7 linked regions of the Homo sapiens genome follow. The protein of the gene in region 4 purifies or fractionates together with the protein of the main gene of each other region. This does not show direct contact. Each region holds a gene or a part of one and is shown on either strand. Other genes may lie near its edges.

Region 1 (3,500 bases), on a different chromosome or scaffold from region 4:
ATTAGAAAGGAAAAAGTAAAACTATTCCTATTTGCAGATAACATAGTCTTGTTATAGAAAATCCAAGAAAAATCCACTAAAAACTATTGAAAGTCATAAACAAGTTCAGCAAGTTTGTAGGATACAATATCAGCATATAAAAATCAGTAGTATCTCTATATACCAGCAATGCACAATATGAAAATAAAATGGAGAAAACAGTTCTATTTATAGTAGCATCAAAAATAATACAATACTTAGAAATAAACTTAACAAAATAAGTACAAAACATACACTCTGAAAGCAATAAAACCTTGTTGAAAATATTAAAGACCTAAATAAATAAAAAGATATCCCATGTCCATAGGTTGGAAGGCTTAATATTGTTAACACGGCAATACTGCCCAAACTAACCTACAGATTCAACATAATCTCTATGAAAATCTCATCTGGTTTCTTTGCAGAAATTGACAAGCTGATCCTAAAATTCATATGGAAATTCAAGGGACTCACTCAGGATAATCAAGACAATCTTGGGGGTGGGAGGAACTGAACAAAAATGGAAGACTCACACTTCCTGATTTCAAAACATACTCAAAACTACAGTAATCAAAATTGTGTGGTGTTACCATGAAGACAATGAACAATGATTAAATTAATGGAATTGAACTGAGAATCCAGAAATAAATCCTCACATTTATGGTCAATTGACAAGAGATGTAGAAAGAATATTCTTTTCAACAAATGATTCTAGGACAACTGGATACCCACATGCAAAATTTGTTTTATGGTGTGAGGTATAAATAATGTAATATATAATAAATTAACTCAAAATGGATCAAAGATCTATGTAAGAGCTAAAACTATAAAACTCATAAGAGTACATCTTTGTGACCTTGAATTATGTAATAACAACAAAAACACAAGCAACAAAATAAAAAATAAACTAAACATCAAAATAAAAAAAATTGTGCTTCAAAGGACGCCATCAAGAAAGTAAGTCCACAGAATAGAAGAAAATATTTGCAAATCATGTATTTGCTAAGTATATAAAATATGTAAATAATTCTTGGCTGGGCACAGTGGCTCATGCCTGTAATCCTAGTACTTTGGGAGGTTGATGGGAGAATCGCTTAAGCCAGGAGTTCAAGACCAGCCTGGGCAACAGAGTGATACCCTGTTTCTACAAAAAAATTTTTTTAAATAAAAATAAATTTAAAAAATGAATTCTTAAAACTCATTAATAAAGAGAACCTGATTTTAAAAATAGGCAAGGAACAGATTTTTCTCCAAAGATATACACATAGCCAATAAGCACACAGAAAGATTAATAACCTTAGTTATTAGGGAAATGCAAATCGATACCACTTCACACCCACTAGGATGGCTATAATGAAAAGGACAGACAATAACAAGTGTTGGCAAGGATGTGGAGAAACTGAGAATACCGTTGCTAATGGGAATGTAAGATGGTGCCGCAACTTTGGAAAATCGATTGGTATTTCCTCAAATTTTTAAACACACAGTTACCATTTGACCCAGCAATTCTACTCCTAGGCATACACCCAAGAGAAATGAAAATACAGGTCCACACAAAAACTTGTACATGGATGTTCATGGCACCATTATTTGTAATAGCTAAAAAGCAGAACTAACATATGCATCAACTGATAAATAAAAAATTGTATAGCCACATGGAGTATTTTTCAGCCATAAAAAGTAATTAAGTACTGATATTGATACAACATGAATAAACTTTGACAATATTATGCTAAGTGAAAGAAGCGAATCATTAAAGACCCCGTATTGTATTGTTCCATTTATTAAACATGCCCAGAATAGGCAAATCTATGGTTGCCAAGGGGTGGGGTTGGGGGAAATAGGTGGTGGTGCTAAAGGCCATGAGATTTCTTTTTGGGGTGCTAAAATGCTCTAAAACTGACTACGATTATGGGTTGTACAACTCTGTGAATATATTAAAAACCACTGAACGGTTTTTTTTTTTTTTTTTTTTACACAGAGTTTCACTCTTGTTCCCCAGGCTGGAGTGCAATGGCATGATCTCACTCACTGCAACCTCTGCCGGGTTCAAACGATTCTCCTGCCTCAGCCTCCCGAGTAGCTGGAATTACAGGCACCTGCCACCATGCCTGGCTAATTTTTGTATTTTCAGTAGAGACAGGGTTTTGCCATGTTGGCCAGGCTGGTCTCAAACTCCTGACCTCAGGTGATCCACCCACCTTGACCTCCCAAAGTGCTGGGGTTACAGACATGAGCCACCATGCCTGCCCTGAACTATATTTTTTAAATGAGTGAATTGTACAGTATGCAAACTATATTTCAATAAAGCTGCTACCAAAAGTTAGTATTTTTATAACTACTTTTTGGGAAACTTTGAGTGTAACATAAGCAGAAGGGGTACAAAGAGAGCTGGGGGTAGAGTAGGAGCTTGGGGAGTTTGGGGACTGTAAATGATGCCCCTACAAGCAGAGGCTGTGGAGAGCAAAAACCAACGGGGATAGCAGGGGAGGAAAAGAGTAATAGATACAACCATACCACCCCACAGAGCAGCCCCCTAAACTGCAGGGGTGAACTAGACCATACAGGGCAGGCCCAGCTAGCTTGTTTGTTCCCTCCCCCTGCCCCTGCCTGTTTTGGTTTCTCTGCCATCTGTCAGGTCCTGGGGCTGCCCCACCCTGGAGTAAAGACTTCTCAGATAATATTAACTGAGGAGTAATAATATTACTGCCTGTGAGGTGGGTGGGGTGATAGGTTCTGAGGTTTAGAATGAGAACAAGAAGGGAGCCTAGCTCTCTTTCTACTGATGAGGAAACCAAGGCTCAGAAAAGAGAAGGGACTTGTGCAAGGTCACTGGGCTAGTTAGGGGTGGAGCTAGGGTTAACACTGCACTTCCTGAGAAGACAAGGGACTGCAATAGAATAACTCATATGACACAGAGCTTTAAAAGAAAAGGACAGGGCCAGGCACAGTGGCTCGTGCCTGTAATCCCAGCACTTTGGGAGGCCGAGGCAGGTGGATCACCTGAGATCAGGAGTTCAAGACCAGCCTGACCAACATGGTGAAACCCCATTTCCACTAAAATTAAAAAATTACCCAGGTGTCATAGCACACGCCTGTAATCCCAGCTACTCGGGAGGCTGAGGCAGGAGAATCGCTTGAACCTGGGAGGCAGAGGTTGCAGTGAGCTGAGATCACGCCACTGCACTCCAGCTTGGGGAACAAGAGTGAAACTCCATCTCAAAATAAATAAATAGATAAATAAAAAGACAAGTATTGCAACAAAAATTCTGCAGCGAAATGAAAAGCCCTCTAAGAAAGGAAATATAATCAAAGGACTTTACTTGGCTGTCTGTGATCATCATTTATATATATTAATAATGTAGACACTTTAAACCTGATTTAGGTTAAAATAGAGCTCTTCCTATCTTGAGAGACGGGGGCAGGGGAGGGAGGGAGATGGTGTAAGAAAGTGAAATCTCCATCCATCACAGCAGGAAGTA
Region 2 (3,500 bases), on a different chromosome or scaffold from region 4:
TCCAACATTCTTTAACTGAACTATAACTGGAAATGAGAAACTGGGTTTGCTGTTGTGAGGTAATCAGGCAATTCCATTTTTATGGATGCTATGGGGCTACATTATTTTTATCCTAAGCAACTTCCTGGTAATAAGTTATGAGACACAGTTAATTCTACCAATTTACAATCACTGACAATGAAAATGTTGAGGATGACACACAATTAAAAATATATTTAGGCTATCTAATTACAACTGCCTTTCTCTTTCAAAAACAGGTTATATTATAAAGTAAAATTCAAACAGGTTGAATATATAACTAGTGAAAAATATTTCAGGCTTATCAGGTTCTTAATTTGAAAAGCTATTAATTTTAGAATTCTCTTCCATAAAATCCTGAAGATTGGCTAAGATGAAAGTCCAGAGTCTGATTCTTACAAATTTCAAGTTACAGGAATACAACTTTGGAGGCTTCACTCAGTATTTTCAAGAGCCTTTGTATTACTCTAAAACATGTAACAGGCCTGGCACAGTGGTTCACACCTGTAATCCCAGCACTTTGGGAGGCCAAGTTGGGCGGATCACTTTAGGTCAGGAGTTCGAGACCAGCCTGGCCAACATGGTGAAACCCCGTCTCTACTAAAAATACAAAAAATTGCCAGGCACAGTAACATGTGCCTGTAATCCCAGCTACTTGGGATGCTGAGGCACGAGAATTGCTTGAACCCAGGAGGCGCAGGTTGCAGTGAGCCGAGATCACGCCACTGCATTCCAGCCTGGGCGACGAGAGCAAGACTCTGTCTCAAAAATAAATAAATAAATAAATAAATAAAATAAAAAACAAAATGTAACAAATTGGCAACGATAAAACTAGATTACTGATAATGTCAATAAATGCCCTCAGAAAATGTGTTTTTTATACTTAAACACAATTTCTTATTATTTAATATATAAAACATTTTTCCATTCCTTCCACCCAGATTTCAATTCTTTTGACAACAAATAGAGCTTTAAGTCTAAAATATTCAAATAAAATTGTAACTAACCTTTATATATGCACTTGGGTAGATCTTATGAACAGCATCTCCAGGTGCACGCCCAGCTTCTCTGTCTAAGTAGTAACTCTGTACAAAGACCGCGTGGTCACTAAGGCACCTGACCCAAACATCACCTTCACCTTTACATTCCAACTGCACACCTTTGCCTATGTGCAACCTTAGGAAGAAAAAAGAAATTACATTTTATCTTGATAAGTATTTTAAATTAAATTTTAGTTCAGATTGTATAGCATGCTTAATATTGAAAAATTAAAAATAAAGATCACATAAAACCAAAAGATAGCTATTAACATTTTTGTATATTTCCTTTTTTCTTTTCCTGTTCATATCTAATAATGATGCACATATTTACAACACTTACTATGTGTCAGGAGCATGTAGTATGAATTCTCATTAAACCCTTACAACTCAACAAGTACTATTATTCTAATTTTTTTAGATAAAGAAACTAAGGCATACTGTCCAAATTGATAGCCACTAGCCACATGTGACTATTTAAATTAAATTAAAACTAATTAGAAATCCGATTAGTCAATCAAGTGAGCTATAATTTAAGTGCTCAATAGTTACATGTGGCTAGTGGCTACCGAACTGGACAGTGCAAATATAAATCATTTTCTTCATCACAGAAAATTCTATTAGGCAGAATGGCTTAGAGGTTAGGTAATTTGCCAAAGTCACATGACAGCAAGTGATAGAGCCAAGATTATGTTCTTTAGCACACACATCCTTAAAAGCCGAGATCATACAGTAGCTAAAATGGAATGTTCCTGTAATATTTCACTGTAAGCATTTCCATTTCATTATATAAACTTTTTTTTTTTTTTTTTTTGAAATGGAGTCTCACTCTGTCACCCAGGCTGGGGTGCAGTGGCACGATCTCAGCTCACTGCAACCTCCACCTCCTGGGTTCAAGCAATTCTCCTGTCTCAGCCTCCTGAGTAGCTGGGATTACAGGTGGACACCACCACATATGGCTAATTTTTGGTAGAGACAGGGTTTCACCATGTTGGCCAGGCTGGTCTCGAACTCCTGACCTCAAGTGATCTGCCTGACTCCGCCTCCCAAAGTGCTGGGATTATAGGTGTGAGCCACCGCACCCAGCCTCATTATATAAACTTTTAAACATTTTAATGACTGTATAAAAAAGGAAAAATTTATCATAATTTACTTAACCATTTCCCTTTTATTACCAATTTTTTTAACATTATAAGTAAAACTTTCAGAAACATGTTCTCATTTAATATTACTTCCTTTCAGTAATTTGTAGAAATGTATGATCACAGAAAATAAAATTTTCAAACTGAATTTCAAAAGGTATACTTACTATTCGAAACATAGAAACCTACTAACATAAAAAAGGCTATCTTTTATCATTATATGTTAAACAACAAAAACACCGACAATTAAGATGGAGTGCTTACAAATTCTGAGTTTTCAACATGACCTTTATTCCTTTATTTATATTTAAGAACACATATAATGTACATGGGAAAACATAACCTTGAATAAAAGACAATGTACTATGCTCAATTTTTTAAAGTAACTATCTGACTATACAATCAATACCTTGCTCTCTCAATGGCTTCTGTCCTGTGGACATTGGAGAGTTGACCCAAACAAAAGCGATCTCCTCCAGAAGGGTCCACGTATCCATCAACAGTAACAATAGGGCAGCTTGAAGGAACCTTAAATGTCTCTCCTACCTGAACATCCATTTCAAAGTAAGCAATGGAACACCAATACTCAGGAGCTATAGGAAATAAATGGGAAAGAACATCCTCCCATGAGAAAGATATAAGGCTTTCACTTGCACTCCACAACACAGTTTTTCCTAAAAGAAAGGGTAAAGGGAGGGGAGATGGAAATGTAATGCACCCAAAACAACTGGATTAAAATAACATAATGCATTAAAAGGTAGGAATTTCCATGTCTTCTATTTTCTAGCTCAGTACTTAGCACTGTTCTTAAAACACTAATTTTTTTTTTTAATTTCCAATTACCACTTATCCTCAAGTTCTAAAAGTCATTTTTTAAAATCTGGAATTTGGTTCTTACCTCAAAGGACCAGGTCAACTGAGAATTTAAAGAACAGAAATAATCAGAATCTAAAATAAATTATTTTACCATGGTATTTCATTTGACTACACATATTCTCTATGTAGTCTCAACTTTTATTTTTTAAAAACACACTGACCCTAAGATGTATTCCAGGGAACTGTCCTTGAATAACATCGACTCATGACATATTTTTATAGATTCCCTAATTGAGAGAAAGTGCATAAGCAAGTCAGCTATCCCATCCCTGAGTTAAGGTTAATTATACTCTAATCACACAGTTGTTGTACACACAGATTCTCAACTGTCTCTTGGGTAGAAGGTCATTTGTCCCACCTATGCCATAGCAAAAGGTATTTTTAGTGAAGTCAGGTCATGTTAACTACCACAATTTTAACTTTGGAG
Region 3 (3,500 bases), on a different chromosome or scaffold from region 4:
GTTTGAATAAAGACTTTGGTACTACAGTTTAAAAAGTCAAGGAACCACTTGCACTTGGTCTTCCTATTATTTTATGCCATTTATATCACATTGTAGCCAAATACAGGTGAGATGACTGGATTTAATATCTTATTTTATTGTTAAACATGTTCACTGAGATCAAACTTATCTGCATTCAAACACTGGGTTTCCTAAAATTTTTGAAATGTGTGCATGAACACAAACTATAGATCTTACTTGTCAATTTGCTCAAATACGCATCTGAAAAATCATCTTCATCCTAACAATTCAGTAACAAAGTCACATATGATGTCTGGGAAACCTCCTAATTGTAAGTCAATGAAAGCAAGGCAACTATCGAAAAATGAGCAAAGCAATAAATGTTAGCAAAATTAATGTTCCTATATAAACACAGATGTCAATATATCATTGATATATTAACACAGCCAAGCTAAATGTTGCTTATTTGAACTGAACTTGAGTATTAAATAATCTACATAAATCCTACAGGGAAAAGCAGACAGACATAAGAAGAGTTTTCAAATTTTAGTGGCTCTGCAGCCTCTATCAATACAGAGGAAATACTGTGGATCAAATGATAAGTAATGGCTCTTACCTTGGCTTTTAGCCACTTTACGTTGGCAAAAAAAGGGGGGGAAAAAGTAGACATTAATGCTAGGTAAGTTATATCCGATAGGACAGGTTTACATTTACAGTTACTCAATTCATGTTAATAAGCTTTTTTCCAGCCATGTTTCAACTACTTTGTAAAGAAAAAGAGATCCATACGTACTGGGGAAATACTCATGTGTTTCATGTATTTTTCAAAAGAATTATATTCATAAGGAAACCACCACTTAATTATTCCAATCTCATGCAGGCTCAATGATTTTTTAAGTCAGTATTTTGTCCTATGGAACTAATCCAACCGAGTAACAGATGATTTTAAAAATACGCTCATTTAAATACAAACACCATAACACATTAGATGTGAAGCTATTTTAACATATCGGTGCATGAGACCTAACACTTTACTGGATAATGAATGTCCAAGTATGAGTATTCATTACTTCAATGGTAGTATAGTTTAAAAAGTGATAAACTGCAAACATTAAAATTCAAAACCACAGATTGCTTCCAAAAATGAAAAAAGGACCTAGTATCTCGATGTTTAAAAACAAATTCATCATGCACAGTGATAACTTAGCCAGATTCTAACTAAGAAATAAACAAACAGGGTCTGGAAAACTCTCTCATTCCTAGCTTCTGAACCCCAATCCTGTGCAGGCCAACACTAATAGGAAGTTCTAAGTAGCTTTAGTTCTAAGTTTTCATCTGAGCCAGTTAAGTCAAAATTCAAAGTTGAAGAAAAGTTGTTTTGATCCTAAAGGCTACTTCTATTAAAGCTGACTAGCCTACACAACATGAAACAATGTGTAGTCCTAAAGCATCACTACTTGTACAATGCCACTAAAAAAAAATATCTTCAGGTTTTAGAGTCTAATTTTTTACAGATTTGGGGGCTTCAAGCTTTTTTTTTTTTTAAATAACATCTGACATTCTCAACAAGTAACTACCATTTTTCAGGTGGCCACAAGGCAGTATCAAAGGAAATCATCCAAAGGAGAGATTTGGTGTCTTTTGGATACATTCTCATTTATAGAAACTGTGCGAGAAATTTGGTACACTTCAATATTTGTTTAAAATGATACTGCTTACTTCTATCTGGAAACAACATCTGGTACCCTACCTAACCATGACATTTCACATCTAGAGAATAAATTTTGAGTATAACATTATTAGGATCCTTGAAGATAAAATACACTAATGTATACTTCAGTATCTGTATTATGATATATACTATACATGTATAGTATATACTTACATAGCAATGTATATCTTATAATGTATATACATAATACTAAATACTATCCTAAAATAACCAAGAAAATATTCTAAATATGTCCACATATCTTCCTTCATTTGTCATTTCAAGTGGATAAGAAACAAAAAAATTAGCATTCAAGTATAAGCTGGTCCCAAATGGAAAGAATAAAAGAAGAATTAGATTGGGAATGAAAATTCTACTTGAACTCTGTGCTACTATGCAATGGTATAAGCTTTAACCTCTTATGAAGTTCGGCCTCCTCTATTAAGTGTTATTAGACATGCAGATGTGTCAATGTTGGCAAGTGTTAGTAGGAAATAACCTCTACATCTTACACCTCAAAATACTAATATTTTTGTTAGAAATCTATAAAATTTTTTATTTAAATATCCCCAAAATATATCCAAAATGAAACTTTTTTATTTCCTTAAGATCTCATTTCAGGCTAGGCACGGTGGCTCACACCTGTAACTCCCAACACTTTGGGAGGCCAAGGCAGGTGGACTGCTTGAGCCCAAGAGTTTGAGACCAGCCTGGGCAACAAGGCGAAACCCCTTCTCTTGAAAAAAAAAAATAAAAAATTAGCCAGGCATAGTGGCGCACACCTGTAGTCCCAGCTACTTGGATGGCTGAGGAGGGAGGATCACTTGAGCCTAGAAAGTTGTGAGCTGTGATTGAGCTATTGCACTTCAGTGAGACCCTGTCTCTTTTTAAAAAAATCTCACTTTGTTTCCTTAACATTTACCTTTATGGATGAGTAATTTTACCATTTGCCTGGAATCTGTTTGAAATTCCCTTTGATTCCTCCCTATCTTCTAAGTACATCATAGTTTTGTATGTCATAGGCACTAAATGTCTAATGCTAATTCTTTTTTTTTTTTTGCTGGCTCTGTTGCCCAGGATGGAGTGCAGTGGCTCAATCTTGGCTCACTGCAACCTCTGCCTCCCGGGTTCAAGCGAGTCTCCTGCCTCAGCCTCCCAAGTAGCTGGGATTAAAACTGTGTGCCACCATGCTTGGCTAAATTTTGTATTTTTAGGAGACGGGGTTTCACCATGTTGGCCAGGCTGGTCTCGAACTCCTGGCCTCAAGTGATCCTCCCACCTGAGCCTACCAAAGTGCCAAGATTACAGGCATGAGCCACTGCACCCAGCCAAGGCCAATTCTTTCTTTGAAATGATTCTTAACTCACTCCTCTGCTTTATAAAATAAAAATTAAAAAAAAATCTTCCTATGTAAACATTATAAAGCTTTAGTTTCTACACTGTTTTAAAAAAATTAATCAGAAAGCCATTAGGCTGAGACCATTAGGCTGAGACGGCTCCAGCATTCTGGGTTCCTACTTAGGCAAACCAAAACACAATTAAAAGAAACTTAATCAGAAACCTCCAACTAACCTCTAACTAGGAACTTTACTAATCAGAAACCACAATTAACTTCTAACCAATCAAATATTTTGCTTGTCTTGCTTTCTTGAACTTCTACCTGCTTCATGTCTCCTGTGGTCTGAAGCTGCCCGATTCATGAATCACTGTAAACTAAAACTCCAAAAAAAGTAACACATCTAAGCTTATCTTTTAAGACCAATAATAAAATCTAACAACTCCTAGATCA
Region 4 (3,500 bases):
CCAGAAGTTCGAGACCAGTCTGGGCAACATAGTGAGCCCCTACCTCTATTATAATAATTTTAAAAGGGAATAATGTTTATTTAACGATGCTCTGAGACCAGATTAATATTTTGTAAAGTTTGTACTTTGATGTGCCAGCTTGATGTGCCTCCTGTGAGGCTTTTGCTTTTTAACTCCCTTTGCTTTTTAACTGCCTTCTGGATGAAGTGTTCTTTTTGTTTCATGCTTTGACTTGACAGCCTAATGCTCAGGACAAGGTTTTTCTTGCTCCTTTCGAGAAAAGGAGCTGGGTCCATGGGAGCCACTTCCGGGTCTCCCTGTTTGCAGACCCCACAGTATTCCCCCTCAGGTGGCCATCCTCTTGGGACAGCCAGCAGTGCTCCCAGGGGCGGCTGTGTCTGTGAAATGGGAGCTGTGATCCCAGTCTCTGAGTGCCTTAAGACCACCAGCACTCCAAACTTGGTCAAGTACTTTCAAATTGGCAAGCTCATTCCCTCCTCCCAGACACCCTGTGAAGCGGACATTCATTGTCTACGTTTAAAAGGTTCTGAGAATAAGGGGCTTCCCTACGGGTACACAGTTTGAGGCCGAATTAGGACTAAACCTTCTTTTACTCTGGGTCTGATGGCTTCCACCTGTGCTCAATCAAAGCCACCTCCATCTGGGATTTTTGCCCAAAACCTTTTTGCTGGTGATTTCCCTCCAGAAGTAAGCAGTTTTTTGAGCTCTGTCTCAAATAACATTTGGCCAATATGTATTTCCAAAAACGTTTAATTTTATTTATTTGTTAAGTTTCTTTACTGACTACTAACTGAAAGGAGACGCCAAATGGGGCTTTAAGGAATCACATATGCAACTGAAATAGTATGCAAATGTTTTTCTTGAAATTTTCCATTCCTTTCCCACATGTAAGGAAGAGAAAACAACAAATTGCAGACATTGCTGTTCTGTTGCCTCAGGTTCCCTGAGTAAGAAAGAAGGAAGATGGTTTTCTAAAGGCAGGCTTGGGAAATACTGTCAGTGGGGGGCTCATTGATTTAGTCGGGGAATAACTAATTCTAAAATGCATCAACAAGGTGAAGCTACAGGATATACCAAGCTGTGGCACACCTGCCTAAACACATACCTGAGTTCTGAAATGTCCAGGTCAAAGATTTATAACGGAGGTATAGTTACATTAAAATTAAATTAACTAAGAGGTCTATTACTGGATAAATATTTCAAAAATAAAACTTTCCATTTCAAAGTAGCCACCATCACCGCTGATGATAAAATCCTGTTTTCTGGTCACAATTCCCCTTTTAAATCACCTGGTAATTGTGACCAAAGGAAGAAGGCCTGATTCATCCATGCAGTCCCCACGCAGGGAAAACCTGAGGCCCACGACTCAGTTTTCCATGACAAATCTGGTGTGTGCCGCCCCCCAACCCTGGCTCTTTGTCATTAAAGAACATTCATTTTTGTTGAACCGTTTATAGTTCTCGTTTTTATATTTTCACTTATTCTAAATCAGCGTATCTTGAAGAGACAATAACAGAATTTTCCAAAATGTTTTTATAAAATTCCTCTTAAGGGATTTTCACAACCTAGTAATAATCACATAACACAGCTAAAGCACAAAATTCCAACATTAATTCTTTAAAACATAAAGAGAAAAGGCACATTGAACATCAATGATGACAGCAGCATTAAAGAAAGAGAGCTGGGCCAGCCACAAAAATATTAGAAAAATTCTAATTTTAAAAATTAGCATCGCATTGAAGGTAAATCATATTCTCTATCATCATATGCACTGACATGTTTTAAAATGCATCAGTGTACTCACGTCTTTTTATCTAATTTCTAGTTTTTTCTAGTTTGTCTTGACAAATGACTAGCAACCAGAAAAAAAGTCAGAAAATCCTTCTTACATCAGAAATGATCACACCTGAAGCTGTCCTTTCCCTTCACTTGCTTTCCGGAATCCTTCCCACTTTTACTGTTTGCTTTATTTGGTGGCTTGGGGTGCCTTTGAAAATCTCCTTTGTTCTTTTTCGGCTTAGTCAAAAATAGAAACCTCTTCAATAAAAGAACAAATTCAAAAGTAAACTGGAGATAATTTCGATGTTATCATTTTAAGGCTGTAATTTGGATATTTTAACATAAGGAGTCGAGTAACAAATGAAATACACAATGTAAATATGTATTTGCAGGGATTATCTCCTAGGTGATATATTGTCACGTAATTAGTATTCTTCAGTAGGATATCATATATCTCAGTAATTGCAAATAAAACAGAAAATTACATTAAGCAAATCCATGTTTGTGTATGGAAATGTTGTAGACACGTCTATTTCCACTCCATTTTCACATTTAATCATTGCTAAATCTCTACAATGTATTTTTCTAATGTCTCACTCTGTAACAGTATTCCATATGTTTGGCAATCTTTCCCTCATAGCAAGAAACTTTCAATTAATTTGGCTGCAAGTTTTGTCTCTATTAAGCTATTCCCAGAACCAATCTCTTAACCCCCTAACATCATAATTAAAGCAAATTATACTTTAAAGACATGTGGGGGTGAGGTACTGCAGTTAAACATCTGTGGCTAGACCCAGACTGACAGAGGGAACAGGGTGGGGAGATCTGAGAAAAGAAATCCACCAAAATTACAGCAGGAGGTAGGACTCACCTCCCAAGACGACTTTCCAGTCAGCCGCTCATACAGTTAACCCCAAAGTCCATTTTCCAAGGGAGAATCCATTTCATTTTCACCAATTAAACCCAACCTGTCCACCTACCCCCAAAAGCAATGCCTCAAAATGGTTGACTTGTGCTCCATTTTGATCAGGGATCCTATAAAATTGAGGACTAAATAAGGTAAAACCTCACAGTGGCATCTAATTTTAGTTGATTTCTTCCTACCACAGACAATAAGAGCCCAGCTCCAGGGCGGCTTCTGTCCTATACCCAGCACCTGTGCTTCCCTCCCAGGGCGCCTAGAAAGAGAGATGGCTCCACCACGGTGCAGCCTGCTGGACACACGACCGCCCTCCTCCCCGCCCCCCCCGCCGAGTAAAACCCCTGTGTCGTGAATTCCTGCACTATCCCATGTTTCTCCCTGCAAAGATTTTGCAAAGGAAGGAAGGGATAGACAGAAGAAATTGGGGGAACAGGGGAAGGAGAAGGAGGGAGGAAGAAAGAGAAATTCAAGCCACCAGACCGCGATGGAATTTTACTAAAAGCAGTGGACCCTATTTGCCCACATCTCTGTTATGGGCATTGTTAACACTCATTCCAGGAAGGGAGAAAGGCAAAACATTGTTACAAAAGTAAAATCGCCTCAACGGCACCCCAGCCAGCCCTCTCCAAATTCAGCCGTCTATGCAGCCATGTATTTGGTGCTGCCACAGCAAACTGCTGCTTCAGTCTGTCTCCAACCGTGGGTTTCTCAAAGTGGGTAATATTACTCCTTTTGTCCTCTCTTCAGCTAAACTGGTTCCAAGTCCCTATGCGTCCCA
Region 5 (3,500 bases), on a different chromosome or scaffold from region 4:
GCATTCAGCACCCACCCCAGGGGAGAAGATGCTGTTTCTCTTCCTGTCCTGTCCCCAGACTCTTCCAAAGCAAACCCCCTTGGCCTCCAGCTTCCCTGCTCTCTGTCCTTAAGCCTGGCCTGAGCTTCTCTTGGGGCCACAGACCCTGCCTCTCTCTCTCAGTGCCCCCTACTCCCCAGCCTTCCCCCACCTCCTGACGGTCTTCTGTTTGCACGCATCTGTTTTGCTATTTCCTTGCCCAAAAGTCTGTCTCCCTTCCACGTCCCCTCATGCCTCTTCTCCCTCTTAACAGAGGGGAGTGGTGGAGAAGGGCCAGGGGACACCACCTGGGCCCCCTTCCTCTGCTCTGTCCCTTAACCACCCTGGACTCTCTGTTCTTGGCTTTTCTGAGAAGCTGGGGCCTCCCGGGGCCTCACAGAGGCGTCTTGTCATGTTCCTGTCGCCCCCGCCCTTTTTGCTGCTGCCCCCAGAGCCTGTTGGGCTATGCAGGTCCACGCCCAGGCTCCGCCTCCCCCCAGCTCCACAACCAGCTCCCCCCCCAACCCTAGGGCAGAGCGCAGGAGCAGAATTCCACCTGAGTCCGAGAAGTTTGAGAGGGGAAGCGAGAGTGGGGGGTGGGTGAGGGGATGGAGGAGCAGTTTCTGAGGATCCATTCATTCTACAAATAGCTACTGAGCAAACTGACCTTCTAGCAGGGGAGAGACACAATAAATACTTTAATTTCAGATAATGTTAGGTGCTATAAAAAAATGAAATAGTTCAGTAAACCAGTGAATGATGGGGAAATGCCTCTCTAAGAGGTGACATTGGAGTCATTTTAAGAAGGCAGCCTGGGTGCAGTGGTTCACGCCTGTAATCCCAGCATTTTGGGAGGCCGAGGCGGGCAGATCACTTGAGGTCAGGAGTTCAAGACCAGCCTGGCCAACATGGTGAAACCCTGTCGTCTCTACTAAAAATAAAAAAATTAGCCAGGTGTGATGGCAGGTGCCGGTAGTCCCGGCTACTCAGGAGGCTGAGGCAGGAGAATCAGTTTAACCTGGAAGGCATAGGTTACAGTGAGCCAAGATCACGTCACTGCACTCCAGCATGGGCGACAGAGCGAGACTCCAGTAAAGGCACAGGCTGGGAGTGGTGGCTCATTCTTCCAGCACTTTGGGAGGCTGAGGCAGGAGGATCACTTGAGCCCAGGAGTTTGAGACCAGCCGGGACAACATCTTGAGACCCTGTGTTAACCAAAAATAAAAAATTAGCCAGTTATGATGGTGCATGCCTGTAGTCCCAGCTACTCGGGTGGCTGAGGCTGGAGGATCGCTTAAGCTCAGGAATTCAAGGCTGCAGTGAGCCATGATTGTGCCACTTCACTCCAGCCTGGGTGACAGAGTGAGACTGTCTCAAAAAAATAAAAATAAAACATAAAAGAAGGCAGACACGCTGCGTAGCCTCTGATTAGGGGTCCCGGCCCAGTGGGAGCTGGGGCATTGGAGTCTATTCTGGGTTCCTCCGTCAGTCACCCCCTCCTCCCACTTGGGAGACTCTCTCTAATGTCCTATACACCACTCCTCCCATTCCTTAGGTTGACCCACTTCTTGCTTCTAGTACCTGCCTAATGCCTTCTCCAGAGCTGGAGGAGGGAAGGACTGCGGGGACAGGACTCCTGGGTCCTCGAAAGAGAGTGGGGAGGTGGAGAGGGAGGAAGGCTAATAGGCAAGTTTTAAGGCAGCTGGTTCCTTTCTTTTCTCTTTTCATGTGATGGTTCCTACCTCTCCGCCTCCAGGTGCCCCCACTTGACTCTCGCCCCAGCTCCCCAGCCCTCTACTTCACCCACGATGCCAGCCTGGTTCACAAATCTCCAGACCCCTTCGGAGCAGTAGCAGCTCAGAAGTTCAGCCTGGCCCACTCCATGTTGGCCATCAGTGGTCACCTAGACAGCGACGATGATAGGTAGGTGGGCTTCGTGGGGTGGTGGGGCGTGGGGTTCAGGTTCCCCGCCCAGCACCCGGGGTAGCTGTAAGAAAGTGCCTGGTAGGCATCCTTCCCCCAGGTTGAACTTGGAGAGGACCTCTTAGAGAAACCTGGCCTGGGCATAGCCACTGCACACAGTTGATTTCGGACCCACTCCCTCTCTGTGGAGAGGGCTGGGTGGGACTCCCTGGCTCAGAACTGTCAGGTCACAGACTTTTTTAGAGTCTGAAGGGAGTCATTGTTGTCAGATTCCAGAGCTCTTGCAGATTTAGAGATCATCTGGCCAACCCAGGAACCCACTGGCAAATGCATGCTCTAGACAGAATAGCAAATCAGGCCGGGGCACAGTGGCTCCCGCCTGTACTCATAGTGCTTTGGGAGGCCCAGGCAGGAAAATTGCTTGAGGCCAGGAGTTCAAGACCAAGCCCTGGCAATGTAGCGAGACCTCATCTCTAAAAAGAAAAAGAAAGAAAGAAAAAAAAAATATATATATATATACATAAAGGAAGTAGGCTGGGCATGGTGGCTCATGCCTGTAATCCCAGCACTTTAGGAGGCTGAAGCGGGCAGATCACCTGAGGTCAGGAGTTCGAGGCCAGCCTTGCCAACACGGTGAAACCCTGTCTGTACTAAAAATACAAAAATTAGCCAGGCGTGGTGGTACGTGCCTGTAATCCCAGCTACTCAGGAGGCTGAGGCAGGAGAATCACTTGAACCCAGGAGGCAGAGGGTGCAGTGAGCCGAGATCGCACCACTGCACTCCAGCGTGGGTGACAGAGCGAGACTCCGCCTCAAAAAAAAAACAACAAAAAAAACTGAAAAAGAATGGAAATCAGTTTCCTCCCAGTTCCATCTCCCTCTTTCTCTCCTAACAAAGGACTGGGACTCCCTAACAGCACCTGTGGAGCGTGACATCCTGATAGCCCACAGGGTCTACTTTAGGATCCTAAGATTTCTAGAACCGAGAAAGCAAGTCCCTAAGATGGGCCAGCTAGGAACAGAATCAGAGCTAGGAACGGCAAAGGGGCAGGGGCAGCACTGCAGAGAGCGACTTTCTGGGGTTCTCCCTTTAGGGGACAGTGCTCTGTTGGGTGGGTTTTCAGGGCCAGGTGTCACCATTCCTAAGAAAGCCAGCAAGCTGAAAAGGGAGGCCCAGAATCGTGAGTCAGAGATAGCCAGGCTGCCTGCTTCTCCCCGGGGACTGATAGGAACCGGGCAGAAGGGCTGGGGAGTCACCGCTTTTCTTTTGGAGGGAGAAGTGGGACTTCCCGTGGGAGGTTTTCAAGGGGAGGGACTTCCTGCTTGGAAGGAAATTGGGGGTGGGGCTTCGAGAGTGGGTGAGTGGGTGCCTGAGGGACCAATTCCAGATGGGAGTCGCTCCTTCCTGTCCTCCCCAGATCAGGGGCCACTCGCTGGGATCAGGGACTCAAGCCCACCACTGATAGGGTCCTGCGGCCTCAGGGAGGATAGGGACCTGGCAAAGGAGGTGGCCAGGAGCTGGTGGGACGGAGGGCAAGAGTGCCAGTGCTGGGTGGGGC
Region 6 (3,500 bases), on a different chromosome or scaffold from region 4:
GCTGTTCTTGCAATAATGAGATCTGGTTGTTTAAAAGTGTGTAGCACCTCCCGCCTTGTCCTCTTGCTCCTACTCTGGCCACGTGACCAGTGTGCTTCCCCTCTGCCTTAGGCCATGAGTGTAAGTTTCCTGAGGCCTCCCCAGAAGCCAAGCAGATGCCACTATCATGCTTCCTGTACAGCCTGAAGAACCGTTAGCCAATTAAACCTCTTTTCTGCATAAATTACCCAGTCTCAGGTATTTATAGCAATGTGAGAACAGACTAATACAGTGATATATGTCCAAACACATACATTTTATAGCAGACAAGAACCTGTTACTAGCCAGCATCATTAACTCTACAAATATATTTCGTAGCAATTGAGTCTATCTCCTCCCCAATCAAAACAGATTTTAGATTGCAATTTTAAAACACCAGCCAACTTAAATAAACCTGAAATTCTTTAAAAGTCCATTGTCTATGAGTTTCCAATGCTGCTATAATAAGCAACAGATTCTGTTAAAAATAGACTTACAGAGGCTTTCCATTTGTTGTATCAAATATTTCCTATAAAATATACCTTAGAATTATTGTAATAGACTTTTGTTAATCACTTAACCTATAATGAAAATATTTCTAATGATAATTTCCAAAAACTGTATAGAAGGTAGCTCCATATTAAACTTAAAAATCTCTAATAAATGAAATTCAAGCAATAAAAAAACACAAATTTATGCTACCCTATTGGAAAAATGTATGAGAAACTTTACCTCAATTTTCTCAGGAAATGCTAATCTTTGGTCACATACTTTCTGGTTAGTACATTATTCTTATTTTTTTTTAATACGAAGTACAACAAAACCAAAAACAAACAAAAATCAGAGGTGCAAGTAAGAGAATAGCCAGATGACTGCATCTGCCTGCCAATGAATAAGCAAATACTTACCTGTAGGGGGAGTGGAAGAAACAACAGGGGGAGTTGGAGAAGTGAAGCCATCAGCAAGGGTCTGGGCACCCCCAGCAGCAGCGTCTGGGGCAGTGGAGGAAGGGACAGTAGCAGGAACAAGAGGAGCAGGGGCAGATGCAGAAGTAGCAGGAAGGGGAGGAGTGCCAGCAGAGCCAGCAGGGGCTGAGGGGAAAGAGGAGTAAGAGGCAGCATTAATGAGGCAATCACATGAGGCAGGATTAGAAAAGGTATTAGAGTATTTAATGTTAGATATTCAGTGCTTAACACTAACCAAAAGAACAGAGTTGAAAAAAAGAATAAAACTTATGCTAAAGGATTACTATATAAGCAGCAAATAATTCAAGATGCTCAGGGTAATGTGCAGATTTTTTCAATTCATTAAAAACAAACATTCCTTTTCAATTGAAAGCACTACTCCAGAAGAAAAGTGTTCCCTTCGTATTGTTATTTTTAGCATAACATTCTGTATATAGTATACAAAACTAACATAATACACTAAAAAACAACAGTTTTCCATTTTGAATTACACAAATCAGAAAATAGACATATTCCATATTATCAGATTAAAAATTTTTTTTAAAACACAAATCTTTATGATTTTTAAAAGGCATTATCTACTTGTTACTATAAGTAAATTAAGTATGTAACATTCTATTAATGTATTTTGTGTCACGTTTTCAAAACTAAGTTTTAAGTGTGTATCTCCTCGAATCAAATAAGCAGATTTTTCTGTTTCAGAGAAAAGAGGGTAGTATTTTCAGAGACTACTAAATTCCAATACAGCCACTAAATTTAACTGTCAAAACTACTTTTTATATCTGCCCAATCCTTTGTTACTAATATGGTTCTCACACTGAGTTCCCACTGTGTCCAAAGACTGCACTGTCATAACACTAGCTGGAATTAAACTTGTACTCATAACAAAGTGTGATCTGAAACCTCAAAGCAGCAACTGAGCCACATCACCAAAGGCATAAAGAGAAGTGCAAAGTGAGCAAACACTTACAAATCACTTGCTTACAAATAACAAATATATAGACTTCCCAATATTTATGATTCCTAAAGAAAAAAAATCCTGATTACGAAGAAAGCCCACCATAATTAAATCACAAATTGAATCAAATTCAGAAAGGAAAAGTGAAGACGAGGCACCATGAATGTTTTACCTGGAAAGACACTGGGAGGAGATGGAGTAGGAACAGCAATAGGAACCCCCACACTACCACTTCCACTGTTCTCTCGACTGCTGCTCCGACTACTTGGGTGGCTCCCTCCACTACTCCCACTGCTGCTAAAGAAATAAGAGCCACCAAAACATGAGTATTTATAAACAGTAAGAGATCATCAGCACTTCCCGACATTTTCTGAGATGAATGTAGCTACAATAAAGGTAATTCAAAAGCGTACCACTTCAAAATAAAATTTCCTTGAGCTCCAAGTCAGTGACAGGTTAAAAAAAAATGTGTGTGTGTGTGTGTGTGTGTGTGTGTGTGTGTGTATATATATATATATATTTACTTATTAATAAAGTTGAGGGGAAAACTGAGTTCAATAAGCTTGTTTTGACCACATTTTGAAAAAATTATCCATAAATACAAGTGATAAATGTTGAGGTTTAACACATTAAAACAATAAATATTGCCTTTTTATATTCCAGTTTAATGCCTATCTGAAGAAACTTCTTTTATAATAAAACAAAAACATTTTCCTAAACAGATTTGAGTAATTTTAATTAATAATCATACTCTGATGTACTATCCCATATTAATGTTTTATTATGTATAGTTTTTCATCTGTAAAGTTCCACCAAAAAACAACCTGACATTTCCCACATTTGGTCCATAATTTTTTTTCCAGATCAACTGAACTCTTAAAACTTGGAGAGAAGTCTGCACTTTGAGATGTCTGTTCTTTATCAACTTCCTGACTGCTCAAAGTTGAATCAGAACATGAGGAGAGAGAGGTGAAATCAGATGAGGTTTGGGAGAATAGAGTGAGGAAAAGAACTTAGTGCTTGGAAAATGAGAGATTTACCTGAAGTAATCTGAACAGATTATGGTACTATGACCATCACATTTTGCACTGAGGTAGAGAAAATACCTGTAAGTTCGATTTCTTTGATTCACAGAAGCTGTCCTCACAGGGCTCTGCTGCGAGGGAGCCATATTACGGGTTGGGCTAGGTACGTAATCATTTGGTACCACTGGAGGACGCACTGGCTCCAGTGTGCGATAGGGGGAGTGCCGCCTACAAAAAGAAGAGCGTATGTATTGTATGATTAAGCAAGTTTCGGCACAATAAATTCAAAGAGTTGCCAGCAGTTGAGATACAATTTGTAATCAGAGATAGGAAATGTGTTTTAACATAACCCAGCTACCAATTTCAGTCTTTACTAATGTATCACTTCTCCACCATTAGGGTTTTGGTGAATATTGTTATTTTTCAGTCTCCAACCTCATTTCCCTGTGCTAATGCAATTTTGTTCATTTATTCTCAAAGAGCACAAAGGTTCTCTACCATTTAAGCCAATGTTTCCCAGACCCTACCTCTTCT
Region 7 (3,500 bases), on a different chromosome or scaffold from region 4:
AAATAAAAATGCAAAAATGCATATGGCAAATGTATTTAAAATAATTTGGGATATTTTTACTTCATGTCAAGAACATAAAAGTAGTTTGCCTTTTAAACATATGAAACCTTTTATTTTGGTTGATCATTATTACCCTTTTAACAAATCAAGGCAAAAATATTCCTCAAATATTTGTGATTAAACTGTTGAACCGGAATTGGCTCACCTCCCAATGACTTCACAAGTATCTGCTTCAATTAATTTTGAGAAATAAAATAACCCAATCATTCTTTAGTTTTCTGATGCCTCTGCAAAATGTATCTGAAAAAAATATCAAAATAAATTGCTGCATAACAACATATAGTGTACCTTTGAATCAAGTTTATGTCTATCCCAATATCTGAGGTGTTACATTAGTTACACTGAAACAAGTCTGCTTCATTTCAATCAAATTTGCCTTATTTGTGCCTTTTATAAATCACAGCAAGAGAATCACAGAGGGTTAAAAATCTTAGAACTCAGGAATTACCTGGCCTAATCTCCTTATTAGGAACTGGGGCCCAAAGAGGGGAAGTGACTTGGCCAAGCTCACACAGTTAACAGTAGGTCCTGATATGAAATTACATATTATTGATGAAAATGTTTTTCCACATTACCTGGATAATTTGTTTACCATTATATCTACCACATAAAAATTAAAAGTTGGTTCTAATAGTACATACAAAAACATGAAAACAAGAGCTCCATTCCGAGATGAAAATTTTACTCATAAAAAAGCTCTAAAGAGCTCCAAATAAAAACACCAACTTTACCTTAAATAAACATATACTTTTATAATCATCTAAAATTTTCCTGAAGACTAAATAATATTTAAAAGTGGTTACCTCAGCCGGGTGTGGAGGCTCATACATGTAATCCCAGCACTTTGGGAGGCCGAGGTGGGCGGGTCACTTGAGGTCAGGAGATTGAGACTAGCCTGGCCAACATGGAGAAATCCCACCTCTACTAAAAGTACAAAAATTAGCTGGGCGTGGTGGCACAATGCCTGTAATCTCAGCTACTTGGGAGGCTGAGGAGAGAGAATCGCTTGAGCCCAGGAGGTGGGGGAGGTGGCAGAAGTTGCAGTGAGCTAAGATAGCGCCACTGCACTCCAGCCTGGGTGACAGAGCAAGACTGTCTTTAAAAAAAAAAAAAAAAAAAGTAGTTACCTTGGGTGAGTAGAAATGGGGCACCAGGAACCGAAGAGTTTTGTTTTGTTTTGTTTTGTTTTAATCATTTTGAGTTTTTTTTCCAGACAAGCGCTCACTCTGTCGCCCAGAGTGGAGTGTAGTGGCATGAACACAACTCTCTGCAGCCCCGACGTCATGGGCTCAAGTATCCTCCCATCTCAGCTTCCCAAGTAGCTGGGACTACAGGCATACGTCACCACACCTCGCTAGTTTTTTTGGTATTTTCTGTAGCGACGGCATCTGGCCATGTTGCCCAGGCTGGTCTCAAACTCCTGAGCTCAAGTGGTCTTCCTGCCTCGGCCTCCCAAAGTGCTGGGATTATAGGCCCCCGGCAAAATCAGGATTTTAAGAACAAAACAGATACTTTTCAGCTCCAAATCTGTCTTCATCTTAAAGTGGCAGGATATAGGAATACCTTCCAACATTGGTAAATACTTACATTTCCAACCAGACACAGTGAGAGAGAGAAATCAAGTCAAACAGAGAGACACCAAGCTCTTCTATTACTCACAGTTCTACAGATCATAGAGGTCTCAAAATGTTTGGCACATAATCGATAATGTTTATTTAGCTGATCAGGTGTTTTATCTTCTAAGTCTGCTCTCCTACAGTTCTCCACCCACTTCTGGCATCTATAAATAAAACCAAAATACAATTATGAAAATGAGCTCAGCATTTAAATTTCAGCCTTCAGTTTTAAGGCAAACATACATTAATAACAACGGATTCCTGCTCCCCTCCCTGAGAACATAATTTGGAGAATTTGATTAATAACAAAATAACAGTTGGAAAAAACCTTAGAAGTCATTTAGTACCAACATTTCAATTACAGACAAGGTTAAGAAGTAACTTGTTTGGAGGGAAGTACAAAATCATCAGCAGAACTAGAACTGAAACCTGCATCTTCCAACTCCCAAAACATCAGAGAAGATTCAACCATCAGCAGAACAAGCAGAAAGCTGCATGCACAGCCACAAGGCTCACAGCTTAACATTCCCTTCAGGATTTCAACTTCAACAAGCATACAAAACAACACTGTCACTGTAGAAAATCAGCAATTAGGCCGGGCGTGTTGTCACGCCTGTAATCCCAGCACTTTGGGAGGCCAAGGCAGGCAGATCAGGAGGTCAGGAGATCGAGACCATCCTGGCTAACCCGGTGAAACCCCGTCTCTACTAAAAATACAAAAAATTAGCTGGGCGAAGCGGCGAGCGCCTGTAGTCCCAGCTACTCGGGAGGCTGAGGCAGGAGAATGGCGTGAACCCGGGAGGCGGAGCTTGCAGTGAGCCGAGATTGCGCCACTGCACTCCAGCCTGGGTGACAGAGCCAGACTCCGTCTCGGAAAAAAAAAAAAAAATCAGCAACTAGATGTTCTTTAAATAACTAGTTTCTAAGGGAAGCATAAAGGCTGTATTCGTTTATCTTCCTATGAACACAAATTATTATCTACAGTAATACGTGCTGACTAGATTGCAAGCTCCATGAATGCAGGGACTGTGACTACACAATCTAGTACACAAAAAGTGTTGAAGACAGAGAACAAGACAAAGTCCATGCCCTCTCGGTGCTTAAATATTTTCAGAAAAGCTAATAATAAGCACTTATTATGAGCCAGACACGTTCTAAGTCCTTTCCAAAGATGGGTACTATTAATATCCCCCTTGTGCAGATGAAGGCACAGAAATATTAAGTAACTTGCTAAAGTCACAACTAGATCTTTCCTCAAATTTCTTTTCTTTTCTTTTTTTTTTTTGAGACAGAGTTTTGCTCTTGTTGCCCAGGTTGGAGTGCAATGCCATGATCTTGGCTCACTGCAACCTCTGCTTCCCGGGTTCAAGCGATTCTCCTGTCTCAGCCTCCCAAGTAGCTAGGATTACAGGCATGCGTTACCACGCCTGGCTAATTTTGTATTTTTAGTAGAGACTGGGTTTCTCCATGTTGGTCAGGCTGGTCTCGAACTCCCGACCTCAGGTGATCTGCCCGCCTCGGCCTCCCAAAGTGCTGGGATTACAGGCGTGAGCCACCGCGCCCGGCCCATTCCTCAAATTTCTAAGAATAAAAGTTCTGCCGTGGATAAACAGTATCACAAATTATTTTTTTGAGATGGTGTCTTGCTCTTTAGCCCAGGGTGGAGTGCAGTGGTGTGATCTCAGCTCACTGCAACCTCTGCCTCCCAGGTTCAAGCAATTCTCCTGCCTCAGCCACCCAAGGAGCTGAGATTATAGGCGTGCACCACGACACTCAGCTAAGTTTTGTATTTATAGTACAGATGGGGTTTCAGCACGTTGGCTA

What was found.
Region 1: the proteins of LHX4 (region 4) and CYFIP2 purify together in Homo sapiens (affinity purification with mass spectrometry; 2 studies listed by BioGRID and IntAct, with this or other methods). This does not show direct contact.
Region 2: the proteins of LHX4 (region 4) and SMAD4 purify together in Homo sapiens (affinity purification with mass spectrometry; 3 studies listed by BioGRID and IntAct, with this or other methods). This does not show direct contact.
Region 3: the proteins of LHX4 (region 4) and ABI1 purify together in Homo sapiens (affinity purification with mass spectrometry; 3 studies listed by BioGRID and IntAct, with this or other methods). This does not show direct contact.
Region 5: the proteins of LHX4 (region 4) and TSC22D4 purify together in Homo sapiens (affinity purification with mass spectrometry; 2 studies listed by BioGRID and IntAct, with this or other methods). This does not show direct contact.
Region 6: the proteins of LHX4 (region 4) and ABI2 purify together in Homo sapiens (affinity purification with mass spectrometry; 3 studies listed by BioGRID and IntAct, with this or other methods). This does not show direct contact.
Region 7: the proteins of LHX4 (region 4) and THAP12 purify together in Homo sapiens (affinity purification with mass spectrometry; 3 studies listed by BioGRID and IntAct, with this or other methods). This does not show direct contact.

What each region holds. Positions count from the first base shown.
Region 1 is NC_000005.10:157,272,623-157,276,122, reverse strand, and holds part of CYFIP2 (cytoplasmic FMR1-interacting protein 2), read right to left. Parts: intron 1-3,500. UniProt on the Homo sapiens protein: Involved in T-cell adhesion and p53/TP53-dependent induction of apoptosis. Does not bind RNA. As component of the WAVE1 complex, required for BDNF-NTRK2 endocytic trafficking and signaling from early endosomes.
Region 2 is NC_000018.10:51,064,713-51,068,212, reverse strand, and holds part of SMAD4 (mothers against decapentaplegic homolog 4), read right to left. Parts: intron 2,791-3,500; coding exon 2,607-2,790; coding exon of another isoform or gene 2,600-2,606; exon of another isoform or gene 2,468-2,599; intron 1,195-2,467; coding exon 1,026-1,194; intron 1-1,025. UniProt on the Homo sapiens protein: In muscle physiology, plays a central role in the balance between atrophy and hypertrophy. When recruited by MSTN, promotes atrophy response via phosphorylated SMAD2/4.
Region 3 is NC_000010.11:26,770,459-26,773,958, forward strand, and holds part of ABI1 (abl interactor 1), read right to left. Parts: intron 632-3,500; coding exon 617-631; intron 1-616. UniProt on the Homo sapiens protein: May act in negative regulation of cell growth and transformation by interacting with nonreceptor tyrosine kinases ABL1 and/or ABL2. May play a role in regulation of EGF-induced Erk pathway activation. Involved in cytoskeletal reorganization and EGFR signaling.
Region 4 is NC_000001.11:180,236,764-180,240,263, reverse strand, and holds part of LHX4 (LIM/homeobox protein Lhx4), read right to left. Parts: intron 1-3,500. UniProt on the Homo sapiens protein: May play a critical role in the development of respiratory control mechanisms and in the normal growth and maturation of the lung. Binds preferentially to methylated DNA.
Region 5 is NC_000007.14:100,472,715-100,476,214, reverse strand, and holds part of TSC22D4 (TSC22 domain family protein 4), read left to right. Parts: intron 1-1,774; coding exon 1,775-1,941; intron 1,942-3,500. Other genes in the region: TSC22D4-C7ORF61 (uncharacterized protein LOC122198330), read left to right, coding at 1,775-1,941.
Region 6 is NC_000002.12:203,394,394-203,397,893, reverse strand, and holds part of ABI2 (abl interactor 2), read right to left. Parts: intron 3,195-3,500; coding exon 3,048-3,194; intron 2,239-3,047; coding exon 2,114-2,238; intron 1,110-2,113; coding exon 927-1,109; intron 1-926. UniProt on the Homo sapiens protein: Regulator of actin cytoskeleton dynamics underlying cell motility and adhesion. Functions as a component of the WAVE complex, which activates actin nucleating machinery Arp2/3 to drive lamellipodia formation.
Region 7 is NC_000011.10:76,364,133-76,367,632, forward strand, and holds part of THAP12 (52 kDa repressor of the inhibitor of the protein kinase), read right to left. Parts: intron 1,841-3,500; coding exon 1,720-1,840; intron 301-1,719; exon of another isoform or gene 206-300; intron 1-205. UniProt on the Homo sapiens protein: Upstream regulator of interferon-induced serine/threonine protein kinase R (PKR). May block the PKR-inhibitory function of DNAJC3, resulting in restoration of kinase activity and suppression of cell growth.